Linked DNA regions of Homo sapiens. The protein of the gene in region 1 interacts with the protein of each later gene in a pairwise test. Each region holds a gene or a part of one and is shown on either strand. Other genes may lie near its edges. The genes, in order: STAT5A and AGAP2.

What was found.
Region 2: the proteins of STAT5A (region 1) and AGAP2 interact in binary tests that used the Homo sapiens proteins (3 or more experiments, as listed by UniProt).

What each region holds. Positions count from the first base shown.
Region 1 is NC_000017.11:42,291,214-42,298,497, forward strand, and holds part of STAT5A (signal transducer and activator of transcription 5A), read left to right. Parts: intron 1-758; coding exon 759-848; intron 849-4,405; coding exon 4,406-4,580; intron 4,581-7,284. UniProt on the Homo sapiens protein: Carries out a dual function: signal transduction and activation of transcription. Mediates cellular responses to the cytokine KITLG/SCF and other growth factors. Mediates cellular responses to ERBB4.
Region 2 is NC_000012.12:57,724,551-57,728,880, reverse strand, and holds the end of AGAP2 (arf-GAP with GTPase, ANK repeat and PH domain-containing protein 2), read left to right. Parts: intron 1-503; coding exon 504-563; exon of another isoform or gene 564-795; coding exon 796-944; exon of another isoform or gene 945-1,109; coding exon 1,110-1,200; exon of another isoform or gene 1,201-1,298; coding exon 1,299-1,521; exon of another isoform or gene 1,522-1,651; coding exon 1,652-1,907; exon of another isoform or gene 1,908-1,916; intron 1,917-2,086; coding exon 2,087-2,329; 3' UTR 2,330-3,684; downstream 3,685-4,330. UniProt on the Homo sapiens protein: GTPase-activating protein (GAP) for ARF1 and ARF5, which also shows strong GTPase activity. Isoform 1 participates in the prevention of neuronal apoptosis by enhancing PI3 kinase activity.

The DNA.
Region 1 (7,284 bases):
CCATTGCTGATCTGACAGGAAGCAGAGTTCAGGCTGTAATGCGAGCAATAGGCAGCAGCTGTAAATACAGATGAAGCGTCACTCACTTGCTCACCGCCGCTCACCTCCTGCTGTGTGGTCCAGTTCCTAACAGACCACCGACCTGTACCAGTCCATGGCCCAGGGGTTTGGGACCCCTGTGTTACAGTCAAAAGATACGGTAGATTGGAAGTGCTTCATAAGACTGGGTATGATGGCTCACACCTGTAATCACAGCACTTTGGGAGGCCGAGGCGGGTGGATCACCTGAGGTCGGGAGTTCGAGACCAGCCTGACCAACGTGGAGAAACCCCGCCTCTACTAAAAATACAAAATTAGCCGAGCGTGATGGCACATGCCTGTAATCCCAACTACTCAGGAGGCTGAGGAAGGAGAATCGCTTGAACCCGGGAGGTGGAGGTTGCAGTGAGCTGAGATCACACCATTGCACCTTTAGCCTAGGCAACAAGAGCAAAACTCCATCTCAAAAAGAAAAAAAAAAAAAAGAGAAAGTGCCTCATAAACTGTGGGTTTTTAATTCGCTCCAAACCAGATATGAAGATCTTGGAGGGGAAGATGAGGATGAGGAACAGAGATATAGAGGTGTCTGGGGATAGTTCCTGAGGCTCCCTGGGAAAAGCTGAGGCAGAGGCTGAAGGAGAGGAAGGGCTGGGCATAGCATGGGGCTGGCATGGCTGGAGCAGAGGATGGCGCTGGAGGCTACTGTTGGATTCTTTCAGAAAACATATGACCGCTGCCCCCTGGAGCTGGTCCGCTGCATCCGGCACATTCTGTACAATGAACAGAGGCTGGTCCGAGAAGCCAACAATGTGAGTGTCCCTTGGGGATGGGGAGGAGTGTTGAGAAGTCCCTCCATATGCCTTTCTCTCCAGAAACAACTGTGTTTATATAAAACAGCAGCACGAGGAGAGCACCAAGAAGATGAGGGACGTGGGCAAGTGTAAGAGGTGGCAGCATTGCACGCCGGGGTGGAGTGACCCCCTGGATCCAGTCCCTGGCTCTACCACTTACTAGCTGTGTGACTTGAGCAAGTTGCTTAATCTCTCTGAGCCTCTGTTCCTGTTTTTTTTTCTTTTTTCTTTTTTCTTTTTTTTGAGACGGATTCTTGCTCTGTCACCCAGGCTGCAGTGCAGTGGCGTGATCTCGGCTCACTGCAAGCTCTGCCTTCCAGGTTCACACCATTCTCCTGCCTCAGCCTCCCGAGTAGCTGGGGCTACAGGCGCCCACCACCATGCCCGGTTAATTTTTTGTATTTTTAGCAGAGATGGGGTTTCACTGTGTTAGCCAGGATGGTCTCAACCTGACCTCGTGATCCGCCCACCTCGGCCTCCCAAAGTACTGGGGTTACAGGCGTGAGCCACCACGCTTGGCGCCTACTGTTTTTTCCCCCCCGAGATGCAGTCTTGCTCTGTTGCCCAGGCTGGAGTGCAGTGATGTGATCTCTGCTCACTGCAACCTCTGCCTCCCAGGTTCAAGCAATTCTCTTGCCTCAGCCTCCCGAGTAGCTGGGATTACAGGTGCCCACCACCATGCCCGGCTAATTTTTTTTGTATTTTTAGTAGAGACGTGGTTTCACTATGTTGGCCAGGCTGGTCTTGAACTCCTGACCTCATGATCCACCCGCCTCGGCCTCCCAAAGTGTTGGGATTACAGGCGTGAGCCACCGTGCCCGGCCTGTTCCTACTCTTGTAAAATGGAGATAGCAATCATACCTATCTGTGTCAGAAGAACTAACACAGGCAGGCTCAGAGAAGTGAGGCCCAGGGAGGGGTAACAGGGACACATCTCCCCAGTTCTGAAATAATAAAGGCACTGGGCATCTACATGGACAATGGCACAGTGCTGTACTATCTGCAATAGAGCAAAATGAATTTCACAACATGACGTGACAGAAATCTTAGAACAGTGACCGGAGCACAGGTCATATTTATTATTTCTTTCTTTATTTGTTTGTTTGTTTATTTATTTTTGAGACTGAGTCTCACTCTATCATCTAGGCTGGAGTGCAGTGGCGTGATCTCGGCTCACTGCAACCTCCACCCCTTGGGTTCAAGAGATTCTCATGCCTCAGCCTCCCAAGTAGCTAGGATTACAGGGGCCCACCACCATGCCCGGCTAATTTTTGTATTTTTAGTAGAGACAGGGTTTCACCCTGTTGGCCAGGCTGGTCTCGAATTCCTGACTTCAAGTGATCCACCTGCCTCGGCCTCCCGAAGTGCTGGGATTACAGGCATGAGCCACCACGCCCGGCCTATTACGTATTTATTGTTGTGGACATGGATTTCAGGATTTACTCAGTAGACATTTATTGAGGTCTTACTGTGTGTCCGATGCTGGGCTATCATCAGAGAAACACATAAAGGCCTGGTTCTTGCCTGGAAGGAATTCTGGCAGTGATGGATTCTCTAGAGATGAGCTGAGTGCTAAGGGGGCCTAGGTGGAAAAAGCACCCAACTCAGATTGGGGCAGGCTGGCAGGGGAGCGTCCTGTGGACAGGCATGTCTGAGCTACAGTGGAGAAAGGCAGGAGAGGAGGGATGAATTTTCTAATGAAAAGACAGCAGCTGCGAGAGCAGGAGGGCATGAATCTTCTTATCACATTGGAAGACTTGTAAGTGGTCAGTGTAACTGGGGAGAAGGAACCAAGTGGGGAGTTGCCATGGATAAAAATAGATAGAGAGGGCCAGGCGTGGTGGCTCACATCTGTAATCCCAGCACTTTGGGAGGCCAAGGTGGGCGGATCACCTGACGTCAGAAGTTCGAGACCAGCCTGGCCAACATGGTGAAACCCAGTCTCTACTAAAAAATACAAAAATTAGCTAGGCGTGGTGGCGGGCGCCTGTAATCCTAGCTACTCGGGCGGCTGAGGCAGGAGAATTGCTTGAACCCAGGAGGGGGATGTTGCAGTGAGCTGAGATTGCACCACTTCACTCCAGCCTGGGCAACAGAGCGAGACTCTGTATAAAAAAAAAAAAAATAGGGGTTAGAAACCAGGTCACAAAGGGTCTTCCAGCACAGCCCCTGTGTCCCTGACTTGTTGCCATCACAGAGCTATCTGCAAACCTAAAAATGACTTCAGCCTCATTGACAAATCCATGTCCATGGTGCTGGTGCTGTCATGGTCTGGGAGCTCATTCCTTCCTCCAACCATACAACTGTTCCTGAACACCCCTGGCATTCTAGGGCTTGGGGATTCTGTAGTTCACAGGAAAGGCAAGGTCCTAGCCCTTGGGAACCTCACATCCTTGTGCAGGGAGACAGACAGAAACATGTAAGCAAATACAAGAACAACACACTTTTAGATAGGACTACTGTGAATTGGCTCGTCAGAGATGACCCCTCTGCAATGGTACCAGTTAAAGTGCTTTGCCTCAGGAGGATCTGATGCCAGAATGTTCCAGACTGTTGGAACAATAAGTGCAAGGGCCCCAGGGCAGGAACATGCCTGTGTGTTCAAGGAACAGAAACAGAAAGCACACATTCCCAGCGAGCTGGGGTTGGAGGTAGGCAGGGCTATGGCCAGCAGACACCATGGGAAGGGGTTTGGATTTTATTCTGAGAACAGTTCATTGGAAAGCCTCTGAGGACTTGTTCCTCTTCATCCATGTGCTCCCTCCCTTTGTGACCTGGTTTCTACCCCTCTCTCTCTATTTTTTTTTTTTTTGAAACGGAGTCTCGCTGTGTTGCCAAGGCTAGAGTGCAGTGGCGCAATCTCGGCTCACTGCAACATCCCCCTCCTGGGTTCAAGCGATTCTCCTGAATGTGCTGAAGGAATGGCTGGATCCAAGGGGAGCTTGTTGATGCCTCCCCTCTAACTTCATTTCGGGGTCTCCAGGATGCCTGTGAGAGTTTCGGCCTCTTCCCTCTTCCTTCAGTCACAAGGGGGTCTTAAGTGAGATGGTGTGTGTTCACACAGCCCTGTTCCTCCCTATGTCCCTAGGATCTACTGCAGTCCATGGTATTGAGTCAGCAAATAAATGTAGAGCGAGGGGTCATCATCATTAGTGGGAAAACCCAGGTGACACCTGGGACGTGTTGAGTTCTAGTCCCTGGGAGGAAATTAGATGGACCCTGTTTGGAATACTCTAGTGGAGGGCAGCTCTGACATAGATATTTGGACTTTGAAGGTGTTACTATCTGCCGTTATCTGCCAGGTCACCTGTTTCTCCTTTCTCTTTCCCTTTTCTATCCCAATTCTGGCAAATGACTCCTTCTGATGCAAATGATCCTTCCTTCTTGCCCTAGTTTCCCTTCTTACCCTAGTTTGGGGTTTGGGGTTTGGGGTCTGTAGTATTGGTGTTTCCTAATGCCTGTGGTCTTCTCCCATCCTCTCTTCCCCGAGTTATTTCCATTCCATCTGTCTCCAGTGCAGCTCTCCGGCTGGGATCCTGGTTGACGCCATGTCCCAGAAGCACCTTCAGATCAACCAGACATTTGAGGAGCTGCGACTGGTCACGCAGGACACAGAGAATGAGCTGAAGAAACTGCAGCAGACTCAGGAGTACTTCATCATCCAGTACCAGGAGAGCCTGAGGATCCAAGGTGAGGCGCGGTGGAGGCAGTGTGCATCCGGAGGGTGGGAGTGAGGAACATTCTATGGACTCCTAGAGGGTAGAGCTGGGTCAGTGTCCATCTCCTCAGCACTTTGCCCAAAGCCTGGTAGAAGCAATGGCTCCCGGTGATTGAGCCCCTGCCGTGGGTCACACTTGGCACACATTATTTAATTCAACCCTCTCAACAAGCCTATGAAGTGAACAGTTGTGTTATCCCCCCTTTTGCAGATGGTAAAAGTGAGGTTCAAAGAGAACAAGTAACTTGGCCTAGGTTGCCTGTAAATTACAGAACTGGATCTCAACTAGAGATATATCATAAAACTCCTGTACTTTATTAACCAGTATTCTCTCCTTAATGGTATGTATTCTGTAAATATCGACACAAATAGGTAAATATGAACAGTGCTCCCTAACCAGAGGGAGGACTTGGATTGGAAGTCTTCTGGTTGAACCAGGCTGGGAGAGGTGGAACTTCCAAAGTGGGCCTTCTTGAGCCTCACGGATAGGATGTGGGCCTGGGGGAAGGGGTGACAGTAGAAAATTCTCCTGTATCCTAGGTCTGTAGTTCGCCAATGGCTCCCATGATAAAGATGTGGGGAAATTAAAAAATCAAATTAGCTTGAAAGGAACTATCCCCAGGTACAATTTGAGGAGTCATGGGACATGGCCCATCTATTAATATGTCCCATTCCAGACTGACCCCAGAAATGTAACACCTCATCTTAGTGAGAACAAGGGGTGTCAAACTGCTTTTTCCTTTACTCTTTTTAATCTGATTTCTTAAGGTAGACCTTAGGTCATTGATTTTAGACCTTTCTTCTTTTCTTTTCTTTCTTTTTCTTTTCTTTTTTTTGAGACAATCTTGCTCTGTCGCCCAGGCTGGAGCACAGTGGCATGATTTCGGCTCACTGCAGCCTCTGCTTCCCAGCTTCAAGAAATTCTTGTGCCTCAGTCTCCCGCATAGCTGGGACTACAGGTGCAGGCCACCACGCCCAGCTGATTTTTTTAGAATTCTATTGTAGCTATTTAAGCTCTCTTCCTAACCCTGCACTGTCAGTGCTTTGTGTACACTGAGACCAGCACAATGCCTGAATATTGCAGCTATTATGTAAATACTTGCAGGATAATTCTAAATGTTTGTTTGTTTGTTTGTTTATTTATTATTGCCCAGGCTGGAGTGCAGTGGCACGATCTCATCTCACTGCGACCTCTGCCTCTCAGGTTCAAACTATTCTCATGCCTCAGCCTCCTCAGTAGCTGGGACTACAGACATGCACCACCATGCCTGGCTAATTTTTTTTTTTTGTAGTTTTAGTAGATACAGGGTTGTGCCGTGTTGTCCAGGCTGGTTGCAACCTCTAGCCTCGAGTGATCTGCCTGCCTCGGCCTCCCAAAGTGCTAGGATTATAGGCGTGAGCCACGGTGCCCAGCCAATACTGACAGGATAATTCTAAGAGAATTTCCCCTCATCTGAATCTATCCCAGACTGGCCCTAGAAGAAGGGCAGCTCCTTCTGAGAATGGAAACGGAAGATTTTGGGCGGTTATTCCTACCCAAGTCCTTAGACTGTCGACAGTATTTCTGATCCCGTGCCTGGCTTTTCTGTTTCCTGTGCATGGTGGCGGATTAGGTTTGGATTCAGGTTGGGTTTGGATCTATCATGCAGTGTCTTCTCAGTCCCATTTGTCAAGTTCACTCAGCAGAAACACAGACTATTGATCTGCTTTTGCCAGGGAAGGCTCAGCTGCCTCCAGTGGAGTAGGGAAATTGCTTCCCGTCTCCCTGGCCTCCTTCCTAAAAGCTTCTGCAAATTTCCAGGAGAGCCCTAAGTGGGTCCCTTGCATAGGAAGGCTGGGCCCAGGTGTTGGGATCACCACCACCCTCCCTGTGGCTGGGCAGGATACCCGAGGTAGCCGTGCAGACACCTCGGATCTGTCCGTGCCTGGATGATCCTCTTCCTGCTCGATACCTGCAGTGAGATTGGAGCCATATTTCTGAGTTCTAGCTCTGGGCTGTTCCTGGCTACATAGAGTTGCTTTTGTCTGTCCCAGCTTGTGCATCCCATGGGTCAGGGCTGGGGTCAGAGTGACGTGGCCCTCAGGGGCCAGCCAGGAGCTCGACCAAGACATGCTGGTGCGCGCATCTTCTGACTCAGCTCAAGCAAGGACGCTGGGCTGTTGAGAAGGTGATGGGAAGGGATTAATAGTCCCAGTGTGGTGGAGACGGGCTGTCGCTGGGAGGGTGGGGTGGGCCTGCGGTGGTGGTTGTAACTGTGGACATGTTTACTTTCTTAGCCTGGGTTATTGATACACAGGCGCCCTTGTGTTCCACATCCCCTGTGTCTTACGTATTTCATAATGGATACTTTTTTTTTTTTGAGATGGAGTCTTGCTCTGTTGCCTTGGCTGGAGTGCAGTGGTGCTCTCGGCTCACTGCAACCTTTAACCCCGGGTTCAAGCAATTCTCCTGCCTCAGCCTCCTAAGTAGCTGGGATTACAGGCATGCGCCACCATGCCCAGCTAATTTTTGTATTTTTAGTAGAGACAGGGTCTTGCCATGTTGGCCAGGCTGGTCTCGAACTCTTGACCTCAAGTGATCTGCCTGTCTCAGCCTCCCAAAGTGCTGGGATTACAGGCGTAAGCCACCGAGCCTGGCACATGATGGATACTTTTTTTTTTTTTTTTTTAGACAGA
Region 2 (4,330 bases), on another chromosome or scaffold:
GCCTTCTCCCGATAACTTTCTATTGCCAAGTGCTCCCCAACAGCCCTTGACCATAGTGATCCCCATTCTTGTCCCTCAGTGATTCCCCGCACCCCCACCGCCACCAGCCCCAGGGCCCTCTCATCTCAGCCCTGCGCCCCAGCTTCTGTCCCCTTCCCCCGTGTTCACTCAGATCCTGACCCTCCCTTCTTCTCCCAGAGGTCCAGCTCCTCGCTGGTCTTGATAACCCATCCCTGCTGCCCCTGCTCTCTGCCGGGTGCTCAGACCCAGGTTCCAGATCTGCCTACTCTCATGGCTCTTGGCTTCTGTTCCACTCTGCTCCGGGGCCACTGACTTTAGTTCTGCTTTCTCTCCCCATCTGTCTGTCCTGCTTTGTCTCTGGCACTCTGTCACTATCTCTCTCCATCTCTCCATCTACCTGTCTTTTTCTCCTTCTTTCTTGGTCTCTCTTTCTCTGTTCTGCTCTCCATTCTATCTCTATCTCCTTCGCTTCGGGAAACCAGCCAAGCGCAAAATGTGGAAACTAAAATCCTTTGGTAGTTTAAGAAATATTTATAAAGCAGGTAACAAGTGGGGAGCCGGGAGGGGCGCTCAGCTGGGGTGCAGAAGGGTGGGGGTGCCCCCGCCTTCCCCTGCATGTGCTCGGGCTTCCTGCTGCCCCCCACCCTCTGCTTTCCCTACCCCCACTGCCCCACTCCCAGGGGCTCGGGATGGACATCAGGGAGGACGGTCTTGGGAAAGGCAGCCCCTGCTTGAACTCTGTCCCTTAATGACCCCATCCCATCCCCCACTCAGAGGAAAACTTTGAGTTCCTGATCGTGTCCAGCACGGGTCAGACGTGGCACTTTGAGGCAGCCAGTTTTGAGGAGCGGGATGCCTGGGTCCAGGCCATCGAGAGTCAGATCCTAGCCAGTCTGCAATGCTGTGAGAGCAGCAAGGTCAAGGTAAGAGTTTGAGGTGGAGTGGAGGACTGGCCGCAGGAACTGACCCTGGTGCTGACGGCCATTGGCAACGACACGGCCGAAGTCGTGTGAGAGGAGAGCAGAGGTGTCTGAGAAGGAGGTGGGGCTTGGAGGCAGAGTCAGTGCCAACCCAAACCCTCTCTGCAGCTGCGCACAGACAGCCAAAGCGAGGCCGTGGCCATCCAGGCGATCCGGAACGCCAAGGGGAATTCAATCTGCGTGGACTGCGGGGCCCCCAGTGAGTGCCAGGAGGCAGCGGAGGGGCTAGGGAGTGTAGTGAATGCCGGGGTGCCTGTGCTGCCCGGCTGGGAGCCGACCTCTACGCTCCTTCCGCAGACCCCACGTGGGCCAGCTTGAACCTGGGCGCCCTCATCTGCATCGAGTGTTCTGGCATCCACCGCAACCTGGGCACACACCTGTCCCGCGTTCGCTCGCTGGACTTGGACGACTGGCCACGGGAGCTGACCCTGGTGCTGACGGCTATTGGCAACGACACGGCCAACCGCGTGTGGGAAAGCGACACGCGAGGCCGTGCCAAGCCCTCGCGGGACTCTTCGCGGTAAGCGTGAGGGAACAGAGCGGGGGGAGGGTTGCTGAGGGTGTGCGAACCTGAGACGGTCCCGTGGGTAGGGGCAGAAGTCCTGGCTGGGGGTCCCTAGAGCCTTTTCCGTTGATCCCTGGTCTTGCAGGGAGGAGCGCGAGTCGTGGATTCGCGCCAAGTACGAGCAGCTACTGTTCCTGGCGCCGCTGAGCACCTCGGAGGAGCCGCTGGGCCGCCAGCTGTGGGCCGCCGTGCAGGCCCAGGACGTGGCTACCGTTCTCCTGCTTTTGGCCCATGCGCGACACGGGCCGCTCGACACCAGCGTAGAGGACCCACAGCTGCGCTCCCCACTCCACCTGGCGGCCGAGCTCGCCCACGTCGTCATCACGCAACTGCTGCTGTGGGTACGTGAGCTGGGGGGAGGAAAGGGGGTCTTTGAGGCTTCATCTCGGAAAACGCCTGGCGCGGGAAAGCCCGAAATTCCCAGAGGGACCCCGGAAGTAGGCTTGGCCATGTGGGGGAGGCGGCGCCGGGTGTGGGCGCCCTGGGGACGCGCGGTCACGCGGCCGTTTCCGCCCTCTAGTACGGCGCGGACGTGGCGGCCCGTGACGCCCAGGGCCGCACGGCGCTGTTCTACGCCCGCCAGGCTGGAAGCCAGCTGTGCGCCGACATCCTTCTCCAGCACGGCTGCCCGGGTGAGGGCGGCAGCGCGGCCACCACGCCCAGCGCGGCCACCACGCCCAGCATCACCGCCACGCCCAGCCCCCGCCGCCGGAGCAGCGCCGCTAGCGTGGGCCGCGCCGACGCCCCGGTTGCGCTGGTATAGTTGCCCAGCGGGAGAGACACCCCCATCCCCACGCGGGCCGGGCACGACCACACCGGGCGGACCGCTGGACAGACGCACCCACTCACCTCTCCGATCCGCACCCCGCCCCACGGGAGCACTTCCTACCCCCACGAGGGCACAGCCCCCACGCCTTCCAGAAGACACAAACTCACCTCCCTCTCCCCAACGAGGCATGGAGACCCCAGCTCAACACGCCCCCTCTCCATTGTTTCCACACTCGGATTGCTCTGGGTCTACCCGCTCGGGGTTCGCGGAAGGGGAGGTCCCCAGCGGTACGGGCTCCTAGGCGCTTGGACATGCCCGCTTGTGCCCCCTAGGGGCGGAAAGAAGACCCGGTCCTGCCCGAGCTCAACAATCCCAGGGCGGGAGCCCATACCCAGGCTGGCTCCTGGGGCGACGCCACGCCAGAGGGAGGGTTTAGTACATGGGAGGGCTAGCCCCGGGACTTGGGGCCAATACGGAAACCCTACCCCTTCCATGCTCATCTCACTGCCCAGTGAAGGGGGCAAGGGCAGCGAGGGGCAGGACCCCTGCTGCTCATGGGGGTGGGGGTTCCCAACCCTTTCCGTGAAAGGGACCGTGAGTAGTGGAAACCAGGACGTCCCCTACACCTACCCATGGGTGGAAGCTAAAGAGTCCGGGGGGAACCAAGAGCCTGGGTCCCTCCCACTACTATCTTGGGAGGGAGAAGGGATGGAGCAGGAGCGGGCTAAGAGGGCTGCGGGGGCCTTGTAATTTATTGCTTTGTTCCCCAACATGGGGATGGGGGCGGGCAGGGGCGTGGGGAGGGCGTTTTGGGGTAGGGGAAGCCCAGGGTGGGCAGGGGGTGGGTTGGGGTGGGGGTGCTCTCGGGTTGTGTCTGTGACCGTGACTGCGTACCTGTGACTGTGCAGCGCCCGTGGTGATCTGGGGTAGGGGGCACCCCTACAGTGGGACCCCTCCCCCATTATTCTTTCTGTCCAGCCCCTCCCTCCCACTGGAGCAGCTCCAGAGCCATTCCTCACCCCCGTGACCTCTCCCAGCCAGGGCTGAGAGGATTCGAGGTGGCTGGGAGGGTTTCCAGGCCCCCTGCCCCTTCCCCACAAACTGGGTGATAGGGCGGACTTACCTGGCCCAGCCCTGCCTCCCTCAGCCAACCCAGCCCTTGGGCTGTCTGTGTCAGTGGTTTCCGGTCTTTTTTTTTTTTTTTTTTTCTGGCTAAAATAGTTTGCAAAGGACCAGGTAATTGGGGAGGGGAGAGAGGTGGGGGCAAGGGGGAAATGCCCCCCCATCTCCTTGGAGGCAGTGGTGTGAATCTTCTTCAACAGCAATTAAAGAGGAAGTGATTTTGTCTAGGGGGTGAGCTGCTGGTCTGTTCTTGGAGGCAGGTCAGGGCATGGCCTTGGTCAAGATGGGGTACTGGGGTTGGACAGGGACAGGCAGAGGTGCCTCCCACTGGGGCTGGTGGCAGGACAGTACCCATGGGCATGGAGGTGGTTCCATCATGTACAACAGTTCTGGGTTCATGTAGTGGAGGACGTGGGCAGGTTGGAGTCAGTGGGGACCCTGGGAACAGAGAAGGCACTGACTCTTAAGATGATGCCAGTCCTGGGAGAGTTGGGATATGGTACTTAGAGGAGAGGACAGGCCCATGGAGAGGGGTGGGAAGATGGGACAGCTTTGTTTAAGAGCAGGAACTTTGGAGACAGATCTGATTTTGAAACCTGCCCCTCCACTGCACAGCTAGGGGACCTTGGTGGCATCTGTTTATCTGTATTCTGAACAGTATCTGTTCAGAGGGCACCTGAAAGGCGCTCCAGCTCTGAGGAGGGCTGCCCCGAGCCAGCCTGCTCACCGTGAGCACTAGGTACCAGAGTAGAACATAGAGTAGGGGTTCCTCCCCTGGCCTCGTCAGGGGGTGTTCCAGAGGGAAGGGGTGGGAGACCTCCTGGGAAAGATTTCCCAGCTAGCTGCAGAGGTCCCTGGTGTCCACAAACTCAG